Homo sapiens: one gene and its partners. The protein of the gene in region 1 purifies or fractionates together with the protein of each later gene. This does not show direct contact. Each region holds a gene or a part of one and is shown in the gene's direction. Other genes may lie near its edges. The genes, in order: SMOX, HERC1, CCT6B and FLNC.

Region 1 (3,571 bases):
GTATTATGAGGATTGAATGAGAACCAATGATAAGTGCTTAATGAGAATTGGGGTGAGTATTATTAGCTGTCACAGACCTGTCCGATTTTCCTTGGGTCACATTGGGAAGGTGTCGAATAACCCAGGAGAGGAGACTGTGCCATGTGATACACCCATGTTCGGTGAAGGCTGCCCTCGTTGGTGGCTGATGCAAAGAGTCATGTCGATGGACTAAATTCATTACTCCTCAGCTGGGCATTTTGGCCTCTAGTTAACATAAGCTAAGGACTGGCTACCAGGTTGCTTATCGCCCAAGGGAAAAACCCAGGGAGGAGGCAAATTGAAAGCCTGACCCTTGGCAGTGGTCCTGGGTGAAGAATTTGCTGAGGACTCCAGCTAAGGCTCACCACTCAGCATCTCCTGATTGCAGGGAGGCAAGATGAAACAATTTCCCTCACTTTCTTCTTTATAATTTAGTCTCCAGAGATAAGTTTAATTCATGTCTGTGTCTCAGGTGGAGGCCTTCCCCTTGAGTGAGATGGTGGTGGTGGCGGGTGGTGGACATCACTGTGCTTTGCCATCTTCCTTCACCCTGTGGCCCCAGGGCCTAGCCCAGGGCTGGGGGACAGGGCAGACACCATTCCCAGACATGTGTGCTGACCACACTCACTTTAGGAAGGGAAACAAACCATTCATCAGCTCAGCCACAGGGGCTCGACCAAGGAGCCTCCATTAGCTGGTGTCCTGGGAATGACAGCTGTGGGCATGTGATCCTGCCGCCTTCTTGCTCACGGCCCTCCAGCGATGCCAGGGCCTTGGATCAAGTCCAGAGTCCTTGGAATAACTCTCAGTCCTTTATGCCCTGGACCCTGCCTGCCCTTCCAAAGTCGGCTCTCAGATCCTCTCTCCTTGCTGCCCCCTCCAGCAAAACCAAACCCCTTCAGGATTCCTGACTGCTTCTCCATCTTTGAGGTTGCTGTTCCCTCTGCCTGAAATGCTTTTCTTCTCCCTTTCCTCTCCACCCTGGCTGTCTCTCAGCTGCCCAGGGTTGTCTGCGTTGACCTCACAGCCCCGGGTTCTTTCCTATCACGGCAGCCCAATCGTGGACTGTCTCCCCAGCTGGAGTGAGGGGAGGGGCAGGGACTGTTTCGCCCACATTACAAGCTGTGTCCTGCACAGAGCCCGGTAAATGTTGAGTAAATGTTGCTTCTGGGGATCCCTGGACTGGCTTACTTCCTTCAGGGAGCTCTGCCCAGTGCTTAGTGGGGACTGTATATGAGACAGGCACGAGGGTCGGGCGGGCAGTCAGACCCCTTTTCAAGTGACTGATCGTCGTTATCTGTTGATGAGGTGTGGGCTGGAGTTCTTGCTGAAACGTGCCCGTGAAATGCATCTCCCTTCCTTGGCACACTGGGGCCTCCTGAGACCCTGGCTTTTGTGTTCCTGTCTTCCCCACTGCGTCTCAGCTTCCTTACTCGTGGCTGAGGCCTGAAGCAAAGGGGGTGCTTTGTACGGAGCTGCACAGGCCCAGGGAGGTGTCTCCAGTCGTCAGGGGCCCTTCTGCTGGCCAGGCCACAGCTCCAGACTGCCCTCTTGGGAGCGGGCAAAGCAGACACACTTGGGCAGGGGTGGCAGGGAAAGTGCACGTATCGTTCTTGGAACAGGTAAATGTGTGCAAATGCCCATCCTCCAGTGGGAGGTGGAGCCCATGGAGGCCCATGCAGAGTCCATGAGGGGTGGCTTCTTTCCCACAGACTGTATGGGCACCAAATGTTTCACATTGTCCTAAGTGAGGGCCCAGCAAGAAAACCTCCGGGGCTTATCCCACCTCCCCGACAGGCCGGAGGCGAGGAGGTGGCTGCCCGGGGCCTTGGCTTTTGGTGCAGCATTGAGTGCAACATCGGATCCCTAAGGGACAGAGACCAGGGGCTCAGTGCATCCAGGGGACACCTGGGAACTGGTGGGTTTGGGTTGGGGGCCTTCTGTTTGAGATGGAGGTGTGATGAGGTGTTTTCAGTCTCATGGGGTCTCTCTGGCAGGTCTATAACTTGACCCAGGAGTTCTTCCGGCACGATAAACCAGTCAATGCTGAAAGTCAAAATAGCGTGGGGGTGTTCACCCGAGAGGAGGTGCGTAACCGCATCAGGAATGACCCTGACGACCCAGAGGCTACCAAGCGCCTGAAGCTCGCCATGATCCAGCAGTACCTGAAGGTATCTTGAGGAAGACGGATTCTGGGGGCGTCTGGGTCTGAGGAGGGCTACGCTGCTCCTACCCCTGCCCAACCCCGGCGGTCACCTGGCTTCTCCTTGGGTCTTCCCGCAGGTGGAGAGCTGTGAGAGCAGCTCACACAGCATGGACGAGGTGTCCCTGAGCGCCTTCGGGGAGTGGACCGAGATCCCCGGCGCTCACCACATCATCCCCTCGGGCTTCATGCGGGTTGTGGAGCTGCTGGCGGAGGGCATCCCTGCCCACGTCATCCAGCTAGGGAAACCTGTCCGCTGCATTCACTGGGACCAGGCCTCAGCCCGCCCCAGAGGCCCTGAGATTGAGCCCCGGGGTGAGGGCGACCACAATCACGACACTGGGGAGGGTGGCCAGGGTGGAGAGGAGCCCCGGGGGGGCAGGTGGGATGAGGATGAGCAGTGGTCGGTGGTGGTGGAGTGCGAGGACTGTGAGCTGATCCCGGCGGACCATGTGATTGTGACCGTGTCGCTAGGTGTGCTAAAGAGGCAGTACACCAGTTTCTTCCGGCCAGGCCTGCCCACAGAGAAGGTGGCTGCCATCCACCGCCTGGGCATTGGCACCACCGACAAGATCTTTCTGGAATTCGAGGAGCCCTTCTGGGGCCCTGAGTGCAACAGCCTACAGTTTGTGTGGGAGGACGAAGCAGAGAGCCACACCCTCACCTACCCACCTGAGCTCTGGTACCGCAAGATCTGCGGCTTTGATGTCCTCTACCCGCCTGAGCGCTACGGCCATGTGCTGAGCGGCTGGATCTGCGGGGAGGAGGCCCTCGTCATGGAGAAGTGTGATGACGAGGCAGTGGCCGAGATCTGCACGGAGATGCTGCGTCAGTTCACAGGTGCGCCACGTGCCCCACGACCCGCTTCCCCCACCCTGCTTCTTCCTCACCTGCCCTCCTCTGGTGGACCCATGGCAGCTCTCTCCTCCCCAGACCGTGAAGCTCGGATGCTGTGCCCCACGGGAGAGCCACTGCAGGGTGCCACATTCAGCCAAAGGCTCTTCAGTTGCTGACAGTTTAGAACTTGACACACTCAGAATTATGGGCGCTGTGTCTCTTCCCCCTTTCTAAAGGCTGATGGTAAAACACTCAGAGATCACCGCCCATTGTGCTCTGTTGCTAAGAGCTGGATTTGCCTTTTACTCTCTGAGTCTTTCAGCTCAACATTTTTCACCCACTATTCCAGGAGGACCTCACGAGAACCCCCGATATTAGGCGGGGAAACATGATTATGTGTCATGTGTTTTCAGATAGATAGGAAAAGTAAGGTGGAGCGTTTTGCCGGGGGTCACAGGAGGCGCTGAGTGGGTACACAGCTCGAGCCCCAGCCTCCCTCCTTCCTCTTCT
Region 2 (3,571 bases), on another chromosome or scaffold:
ATGTCAGACATGACTTTTGAAATATAGTAGATGCCTTATTCTGCAGGTTCTGAAGAAATAGTTAATTATTGACATTTTTTCCTTAAAAAGTACCAGCTAATCAGAGGTAGTTCACAAATTTTATTATTTCTCATTATTTTTTACTTAGACAAAATTTAGGATATTTTGAAGTTCCATAGGCATTAAAAGCATAGCCTTTTTGGATATAAAATATCCAAAAAGCAAAGATGTCCCAGTTACTAGAAGGAATTTCGCAGATTAAATGGTGATAGCATTATTTTTTATTTAAACAAATTTATTATGTGGCATGATTTATTTTCAACCAGGATGTTTTGGTCGTGAATTGTACAGCAGAATGGGCAGCTGCCAATCATGTTTTGGCAACCTGTAGGACAGCATTGAAACAGCAGGGTGTTCTGGGATTGAACATGGCTCCCTGCATGAGAGCATTTTTGGAGCGGCTCCCCATGATGCTTCAGGAGCAGTATGCCTATGAAAAGGTAACTCATTACACTCACTCCTAGAGATACACAGATACCTGGTGCTTTGGAATGTGATTATAGCCTTGAACTTATCCCTTAAAAGCATGAGGTCTGAGGATAATAAGTGGGGCTATTTGGGCAGAATCAAATGAAGGTAAGTCATGCCTAAAAGAGTTGTTCAGCAACCCTAAGCCTATTCTTGCTTTATTTTCACCAGAGTAAAATAAAGAAACAAACACCAAGTTTGTATTACTGCTTTTCAGATTATTTATTCACTCCAAAGCTTCTTAAAATACCTATGCAGCAGAATATCTTCCCTTTTCTGACCCACACATATATCTATTTTTATATGGCTTGGCCATTCCAAAGTTGAGGGATAGGGATGGATGCGGGTATCAGACTGAATATCGTCTCCACTTATTAGATAAATCTTTGTGGAAAATTTAGTGGAAGAGCTATGTTGAATTGAGTAGGGTCATTAAATACTGGAATGAGGAATTGCAGCGTTTGAACTTGTCCAGACAGTGATCCTAAAGTAGCCTGTCTTCCAGCTTTTTGCTTTTCCTTTGATGGCTACCAGGATTCTCTTATAAAGGAGGAAAGTGAGAAGAGCAGATCTCTGTGGTTAAATAGTTACCTGCTTTTTTTTCCAATCAAGAAAAACCATGATGAAAATGTACTATATGCAGTGTGATAGCTTAGATTGGATCCTGGAGCAGAAAAGGAGTATTAATGGGAAAACTGAGGAAAACCAAATAAAGTTCTGTGGTTTAGTTAGTATTGTACCAATGTTAGTTTGTTAGTTTTGATAAATGTGCCAGGGTTGTATAAGATGTTAACATTGGATAAAGTTGGGCGAAGGGTATACAGAAATCCTCGGTACTATCTGTACAACTCACTCTAAATCTAAAATTATTTCCTAGCAAAAAGCTTAAACAGTAAACTTGAAAAATATGATTCCAGACTTTCAGACTACGGTAGGTTAATTTAGAATATTTGGCACAAACTCTTTGACATATTATATCCTTGTATTTTGTTTTAGCCTCATGTGGTTTGTGGTGACCAACTTGTTCATAGCCCCTATATGCAATGCTTGGCTTCCCTTGCTGTGGGACTTCATCTGGATCAGCTGTTGTGTAACCCTCCAGTGCCACCACACCACCAGAACTGTCTCCCTGACCCTGCATCCTGGAATCCAAATGAATGGGCCTGGTTAGAATGTTTCTCAACCACTATAAAAGCTGCCGAAGCCCTGACCAATGGAGCCCAGTTTCCAGAATCTTTTACCGTTCCAGATCTAGAACCTGTTCCAGAGGATGAACTTGTATTTCTAATGGTAAATGTACTGTGAGCTGCTATTATTTGCAGCTGAGATTTTATCATGGGTATTGGGCATGTAGCAGACCCCTAATAAGTCTTTGCTGGTATGCATGGCTAGAAGGATACCCTTAAGAGAAATGGAAAATATTTTTCTTTCAGATAGTCACTTTCAATCTGATGGCAGGCCTCCATAGTGACAGGAATTGATAATGTAAGCACTGTTGAACTCTTGTAAACCTGCCACCTCTCAATGACATAGTCCCATATTTTCTCATTTTCTTTTGTCCATAGGTACTTTGTTAGTGCTTTAGTTGTATATATCTTAGCATCTTTTCCTGGTCATCTTGTGGGTTATATGCCACATATAGATTCTAATTTATTTGGCATTTCAATCATGTCTTTAATTAGCATCAAATAAAATATAGAAGAGCATTCTAATTGTCATTTCATTCTGTTTGTATTTGAGAGTGTCTACTCTAGAAACTGTGACATAGATAAAATACCTGTTTAGACTACAGGACAGCACATGATCTAACAACCTCTTTGTATACTTAAGATTTATGTATACAAACATTTGGATAAACATTGATACAATATGAAACAGACAAATATAAATTAAGTAAAATTATGTAACTGTAGCTATGCATCACTTAATGATGGGGATATGTTCTGAGAAATGCATTGTTAGGCAATCTTGACGCTGGGAATATCATAGAGTGTATAGTACTTACACAAACCTAGATGATACAGCCTACTTGCAACAAGACTATACGGTATAGTCTGATTACTCCTAGGCTACAAACCTGTACAGAATATGACTGTATTCAATGCTCTAGGCATTTGTAACAGTGATAAGTATTTGTGTATGTAAACATAGAAGATATAATAAAAATAAGGTTTTATAATCTTAAGAGACCATCTTCACACATGCAGTTTGTTGTTGACTGAAATGTCACGTGGCACAAAAGTATACAATATTTTAATCAGAAAATGTCCTTCTAAGCCCATTTGGCCCAACTCTGTAATTTTGTAGATGAGGAAGCTGAAGCCCAGAAAGATGAAGTAATTTGCCCACAGCTACACAAAGAGTTTACAGGGGTGTGGGGTCCTCCACATGACCTTGTACCTGTGGGTGTTCAGAAAACACATGGCTAGCTTTGAATCACCAATGCCATAGTGATAGTGATAGTGAAAGTGTTTATAATAAAGGGAAATACTGACAGTGCATAAAATCAAGTTTGACATAATTATAAAACTGCTCTTAATTTATCATAATATTACCATATTCTTTTTTGGAAATAAGACTTAATGATTAGAAGAGGACTTTGTGGTTAAGAGCAGGTGCATCTTGCCTAAGCAGAATTGATCATTATGTACCCCCTGTTTTTCAGGATAACAGTAAATGGATTAACGGCATGGATGAACAAATTATGTCTTGGGCAACTTCCAGACCTGAGGTCAGTAAAGATGAAGATAACTGTATGATGGTTCTCAGTCAATGTTTTGATTCTAAATGCTTGTGTGTTTGTGCCCTGGTGTCTCCCATACAGGCTGGCACACACTTGGTACGTAGTACATGGCTGTTTGAGTGAATGGATGACTCTAATTTTGAGATGATTGTGGTTTTCTAGGACTGGCACCTGGGAGGTAAATGTGATGTCTACTTATGGGGTGCTGGTAGGCATGGACAGCTGGCAGAAGCTGGAAGAAATGTAATGGTACCTGCAGCAGCTCCCTCATTCTCACAGGCCCAACAGGTAACTAACAGG
Region 3 (3,171 bases), on another chromosome or scaffold:
GCAACTGGGGTTAAGTGTTCTAGGGAAAGAGAACAGCCAGTGGAAAAGCCAGTGTCTGATGTTTCTGAGGAAGGAGGTGAGAGAGGTGACAGAAGGTCAGATCATGCAGGGGCATTTGGACCAGTCTCAGGACTTTGGCTTTTACTTTAGAGGAGCAGGGAGCAATTTTGAGCAGAGGTGTGACATGGCCTAATTAATTAATTTATGAGACAGTCTCGTTCTATCACCCATGCTGTGGAGTGCAGTGGCACGATCTTGGCTCACTGCAACCTCTGCCTCCCAGGTTCAAGCAATTCTCCTGCCTCAGCCTCCGGAGTAGCTGGGAATATAGGTGTCTGCTGCCACGCCCGGCTAATTTTTGTATTTTTAGTAGAGACAGGGTTTCACCATGTTGGCCAGGCATGTGGCCTAATTATGTTTAAGAGAATCACTCTGGCCACTCTCCACTTTGTAGAGAAGTCAACTGAACAAGTAGAAGGTTGGAGTTGCAATCAACTGTGGTGGAGAATACTGGCTGGAGCAGGTTGTGGGTGAGAGGACATCAGCATTCAGTTTTGGCAGAGTCAAAGTTGAAGCATCTGTAATCTTTTAATTAAAAAAGTTGGATATATGGGTCTGGAGTTCAAGGAAGAGGTCTGGGTTGGAGATTAAAACCTGAGAGTCAGGCCAGGCGCAGTGGCTCACGCCTGTAATCCCAGCACTCTGGGAGGCCAAGGTAGGTGAATCACTAAAGGTCAAGGGTTCAAGACCAGCCTGGCCAACATGGTGAAACCCCATCTCTACTAAAAATGCAAAAATTAGCCGGGGATGGTGGCAGGCCCCTATAATCCCAGCTACTTGGGAGGCTGAGTCAGGAGAATTGCTTGAACCCAGGAGGTGGAGGTTGCAGGGAGCCGAGATGGCACCACTGCACTCCAGCCTGAGTGACAGAGCAAGATCTCTGTCTCAAAAACAAAAACAAAAAACACCAAAAAAAAAAAAAAAAAGAAAGAAAACAAAAAACAAAAACACCCAAAAAACCTTGAGAGTCATCAGATGTGTATGGTTTAAATCTAAAAGTCTGGATGAGATCACCTAGGGATTAAGGGTAGAGAGAAAAGAGGCTGGGACTGAACTTTTGGGTACTCCAACGTTAAGAGGTCAGGGAGGAAGAGGAAGAAGCAGCAAAGTAATCAGAAAAGGAGCCACTAATGCAAAAGAAAGAAAACCAGAAGAGTGTGGTATCCTGGAAGATAACATAGAGTAGGCGGCAGAATGTGATCAACTGTGTTAAATACTGGTAGATGAGGTCTGAGAATCAACCATTGGATTTAACAATATGGAGGTCATTGATGACCTTGACAAAAGTAGTTTTGGTAATGTATTAAATATTTTTAGAAGATATCAATTAATATTAATAGCAAATACTAAGATTTTGGTATGAAAATTGTTTTTACTTTTCAGGTGAGCCAATGGTAGCAGCAGATGCAGGAGTTTGGGATAATTATTGTGTAAAAAAACAACTTCTTCACTCTTGGTAAGTTCATATGAACATAAAGTGAAAGACCTGTAGAGTTATAATTGATAATATTAAGATGAAATTTTTTCTATTATTTTTGTCCCTGTACAGTGGAAAAATTGTCAAGTGTATGAAAGGTGTGGTATTCAGTTATTAGAACTAGCTTCTGTCATTTTATAGTCCATAGTCCCTTTTATATTTTAGATCTAGCAGTGTTAAGTTCTAAGAAAAATTAACCTTACTATTTGAGGGGGAAAGAAAAGGGGAAATTTACTGAAATAATAGCACATGCATGATGGAGAAAATCAAATGATATTGTAAAAATAAGCTCAATTTTGCTGAAATATAAATCAGGAATGCACTTTATCAGCAAAGGAGTTTAAATTATAATACAAAGGGTGACATTTGGGCCAGTGCGGTGGCTCACACCCGTAATCCCAGCACTTTGGGAGGCCGAGGCGGGTGAATCACCTAAGGTCAGGAGTTCGAGACCAGCCTGGCAAACATGGTGAAACCCTGTCTCTACTAAAAATACAAAAATTAGCCAGGCGTGTTGGTGGGTGCCTGTTATCCCAGCTACTCGGGAGGCTGAGGCGGGAGAATTGCTTGAACCTGGGAGGCAGAAGTTGCAGTAAGCTGAGGTCTTGCCATTGCACTTCAGCCTGGGCAACAAGAGTGAAACTCCATCTTGGGAAAAAAAAAAAAGGTGACATTTGTATTTGTATTTATAATAGCCTTGTCTCATAAAACATCATACTAACATCATTAAAGAACAAAGTACCCTACATAGGTAAAGATTGCTGGGGAAAAAAGCTAAGAGTGGGTTAGTAGGCTTTACTCACCCTCTCATCTTTTTCCTTAGCACAGTGATTGCCACCAACATTCTCCTGGTTGATGAAATTATGCGAGCTGGGATGTCTTCTCTCAAATGATGATTGAATTCAAAATCAACCCTTCTAGAAGATGAAATTTAGTACACTTTACATCTGACTACTATTGTGTAGCCTGAGCCATTCTGAATTTCTACACAATAAATGCAGTTTATGTCTTTTGGGTCTTAATAGTCTCAAAAATATTTCATCAAGGTATAAAGAACACAATAAATACTTTTACAGTAAAGGAATAATATTTAAATATTTCCCCAAGAGTCCTAACTCCCCACTCTTTGTTATATGCTATTGCAGTTTTTATAGCATAGGATCTTTATGATACTTAGACCTTTTGACAAGTTTTAATTAACAAAATAGAGGTTTTAGTACACCCAAGTAAATTTCCAATTTATCAGAGGGTATAAATATAGTAGGACAGAATGTTTCATTTTCTCTCAAAATTCTTTCAGTGACTTTTTGCTGCCACTCTTTCCTCTTATAAATATGGCGTGTAGCTTTGGGTTGCATTGTTTATAATATCTGACTCAATTTATTTTGTATATCATTTATTATATTTTATCTGGCTGTTTTTGTATGTATGATCAACAATTTATGCCACTGTGCTAGCTCTGGTAGCTCTCTGTCTAGATGGTGAGATAGAACAGGTCTCATCTGGAAAGAGAATTATTGACACCAATGGTGGGAAATAATTATTTTTGGCTTATAATACAACTGTTCAGTATAGATATTATAGCAATATCTTTCTTGTTTGAAACTCTAGAATTAATCTATTATGCTTTTTAT
Region 4 (2,754 bases), on another chromosome or scaffold:
CCTGCAGGTGAGGCCAGCTCTCAGGACATGACTGCACAGGTGACCAGCCCATCGGGCAAGGTGGAAGCCGCAGAGATCGTCGAGGGCGAGGACAGCGCCTACAGCGTGCGCTTTGTGCCCCAGGAAATGGGGCCCCATACGGTCGCTGTCAAGTACCGTGGCCAGCACGTGCCCGGCAGCCCCTTTCAGTTCACTGTGGGGCCGCTGGGTGAAGGTGGTGCCCACAAGGTGCGGGCCGGAGGCACAGGGCTGGAGCGAGGTGTGGCCGGCGTGCCAGGTAAGGGGCAGGTGGCCAGGAGTGGGGATGAAGTCAGGGCAGCCAGTGTGAGGGGCGATGATGCTGAAGTCCACTACCTTGCCTGTCCCCAGCCGAGTTCAGCATCTGGACCCGGGAGGCTGGCGCTGGGGGCCTGTCCATTGCTGTGGAGGGTCCTAGCAAAGCGGAGATTGCATTTGAGGATCGCAAAGATGGCTCCTGCGGCGTCTCCTATGTCGTCCAGGAACCAGGTGGGCGTCCACACTGGCAGTGGGGCTGGGCCTGCCTGACCTTCCAGACTGGGTTTCTGCCCACTGGCCAGGCAGGAGATGCTTGGGGCCACAGAACTCCCCTCCCCGGAGCCCCCTGCTCTTCCTCTGCCCCGTCTCCCTCTACCCCACACCCTCAGAAACATGTGTCTGCCTCCAGATCTGAGCGCTGACCACAGAGCCTTTCCTGGGATAAGGCCAGGGTGGGGAGGCTCCCGCCCTGCCAACCTCCATCCCGGAACCTGTGCTGACTGGTCTCTCTCCCCAGGTGACTATGAGGTCTCCATCAAGTTCAATGATGAGCACATCCCAGACAGCCCCTTTGTGGTGCCTGTGGCCTCCCTCTCGGATGACGCTCGCCGTCTCACTGTCACCAGCCTCCAGGTTTGTGCCCAGGGTGGGGGTGGAGGGTTTCTGCTATCTGAGAGATGGGCAGGAGTTGAGGACAGCAGGTCCATGGGGCCAGGGATTTAGCAGTGACCTTGGAAGGGCCAGTTAGGAGTCCCTTCTCATAAGGCACGAGGCAGGGCCCTTGGGGACGGTGGGCTCCCACCCTGGGGGCTTGCCCGTGCACTCAGGCATGCCACGCCTCGTTCTGCCTTTCTCAGGGTGTGTCTGCCTGTCCTACTGCCACCTGCCATTTCTTGTTACAGTTTGTTCCACCTTCTGTTGTAAGAATGCTAGATGACAACATTTATAAGAATGAGAGCATAAAATCTATACAAACTAAGAGTAAACCAGTTTGCACAGAGGGTGTGAGAGGCTCCTCTAAAGGGAATGCCTATGGGCTGCAGAGCCTGGGCTGCATCCTCTTCAGGCCGCTGGGGGCCTGGCTTGCTTTCTCTTGCTGCTGACTTCTAGAGATGTGGTGTGTTCCTTTCATTCTGTCACAGCGGACATGTGCAAGGAAGGCTTTCAGCAAGTCACACTGAAACATGCAAACCAGGGGGCCAGGTGTCCAGGGGACACATTGTAAAGGAGCTTCTGCATAAGGCGCACAGAATGGGCTTCACCCCACCTCCTTCTCCCACGCGCCTCCTGGCTGCCCCTCAGGGTGGTCACATTGGCCCATCCAGAGTCCTTGTGCATCTCCTCCTCCCACTCCTGAACTGGGCTCCCCGATGCAGGCTCCAATCCCTCCCCCAGAGCCCTTCTGTGCTTCTTCTGGTCCTCCCTGTTGGTCCACCTTCTCCAGGAAGCTCTCCCAGGCCAGGCCAGTGAAACTCAGCTTCCTACCTCAGAGCTCTCTGGCACCCCCAGCCCACACAGCCCATCAGGCACTTGCCCTCCGCCCTCAGCCTGCTTCACACAGAGTGGGGCCCTTCCTTCCTCAGCCAGGACAGGGCACATCGTCTGTCATCTCCCACACACCAAGCACAGCTAGGATAGCAGGTGCACACATAGGGTTGCATACCGGACCCTGGCTCCTCCTGCTCCCAGGCTGGGCTGGCAGGCAGGGGCCAGGCTGGGCATGGGGTGGCAGCAGCCTTTGGGCTGGGCTTACAGTGAGCACCGTGTGGGGCTTCAGAGAAGACTGCTCCAGCCCCGGCCTCCCAGGAGTCTGAGCATCCTCCGTGGCCTTTGCAGGAGACGGGGCTCAAGGTGAACCAGCCAGCGTCCTTTGCCGTGCAGCTGAACGGTGCCCGGGGCGTGATTGATGCCCGGGTGCACACACCCTCGGGGGCTGTGGAGGAGTGCTACGTCTCTGAGCTGGACAGTGGTGAGCTGGCCCTGCCCCTGCCAACTCCCTTCCGGGCTGGGGCCTTCTGGGGAGGGGAAGGATGGAGGCTAAGCCACCAACCCTTTATCCACAGACAAGCACACCATCCGCTTCATCCCCCACGAGAATGGCGTCCACTCCATCGATGTCAAGTTCAACGGTGCCCACATCCCTGGAAGTCCCTTCAAGATCCGCGTTGGGGAGCAGAGCCAGGCTGGGGACCCAGGCTTGGTGTCAGCCTACGGTCCTGGGCTCGAGGGAGGCACTACCGGTGAGTGCCTGGAGCTGGGGAACAGGGTGACTTCTGGGGGTGCTTGGCCACTAGTCTGGTGCTGCTTTGCTCCAGAGGTAGGGGCCCTGCTTCCTAAGCCAGGAGTCCCCACAGAGGCTGTCCAGGGAGCTGGGGCCCAGTCCCTCTTGGGCCACAAGCCCTTCCTGCCCTCAGCCTTGCTACCTCTGGCCCCCAGGTGTGTCATCAGAGTTCATCGTGAACACCCTGAATGCCGGCT

What was found.
Region 2: the proteins of SMOX (region 1) and HERC1 purify together in Homo sapiens (affinity purification with mass spectrometry; 2 studies listed by BioGRID and IntAct, with this or other methods). This does not show direct contact.
Region 3: the proteins of SMOX (region 1) and CCT6B purify together in Homo sapiens (affinity purification with mass spectrometry; 2 studies listed by BioGRID and IntAct, with this or other methods). This does not show direct contact.
Region 4: the proteins of SMOX (region 1) and FLNC purify together in Homo sapiens (affinity purification with mass spectrometry; one large-scale study listed by BioGRID and IntAct). This does not show direct contact.

Annotation. Positions count from the first base shown.
Region 1 is NC_000020.11:4,179,785-4,183,355, forward strand, and holds part of SMOX (spermine oxidase), read left to right. Parts: intron 1-2,018; coding exon 2,019-2,192; intron 2,193-2,304; coding exon 2,305-3,064; intron 3,065-3,571. UniProt on the Homo sapiens protein: Flavoenzyme which catalyzes the oxidation of spermine to spermidine. Can also use N(1)-acetylspermine and spermidine as substrates, with different affinity depending on the isoform (isozyme) and on the experimental conditions.
Region 2 is NC_000015.10:63,638,399-63,641,969, reverse strand, and holds part of HERC1 (probable E3 ubiquitin-protein ligase HERC1), read left to right. Parts: intron 1-326; coding exon 327-500; intron 501-1,524; coding exon 1,525-1,818; intron 1,819-3,193; coding exon 3,194-3,259; intron 3,260-3,433; coding exon 3,434-3,559; intron 3,560-3,571. UniProt on the Homo sapiens protein: Involved in membrane trafficking via some guanine nucleotide exchange factor (GEF) activity and its ability to bind clathrin. Acts as a GEF for Arf and Rab, by exchanging bound GDP for free GTP.
Region 3 is NC_000017.11:34,927,307-34,930,477, reverse strand, and holds the end of CCT6B (T-complex protein 1 subunit zeta-2), read left to right. Parts: intron 1-1,443; coding exon 1,444-1,516; intron 1,517-2,360; coding exon 2,361-2,430; 3' UTR 2,431-2,617; downstream 2,618-3,171. UniProt on the Homo sapiens protein: Component of the chaperonin-containing T-complex (TRiC), a molecular chaperone complex that assists the folding of proteins upon ATP hydrolysis.
Region 4 is NC_000007.14:128,854,406-128,857,159, forward strand, and holds part of FLNC (filamin-C), read left to right. Parts: intron 1-7; coding exon 8-277; intron 278-369; coding exon 370-507; intron 508-793; coding exon 794-909; intron 910-2,112; coding exon 2,113-2,245; intron 2,246-2,339; coding exon 2,340-2,516; intron 2,517-2,712; coding exon 2,713-2,754.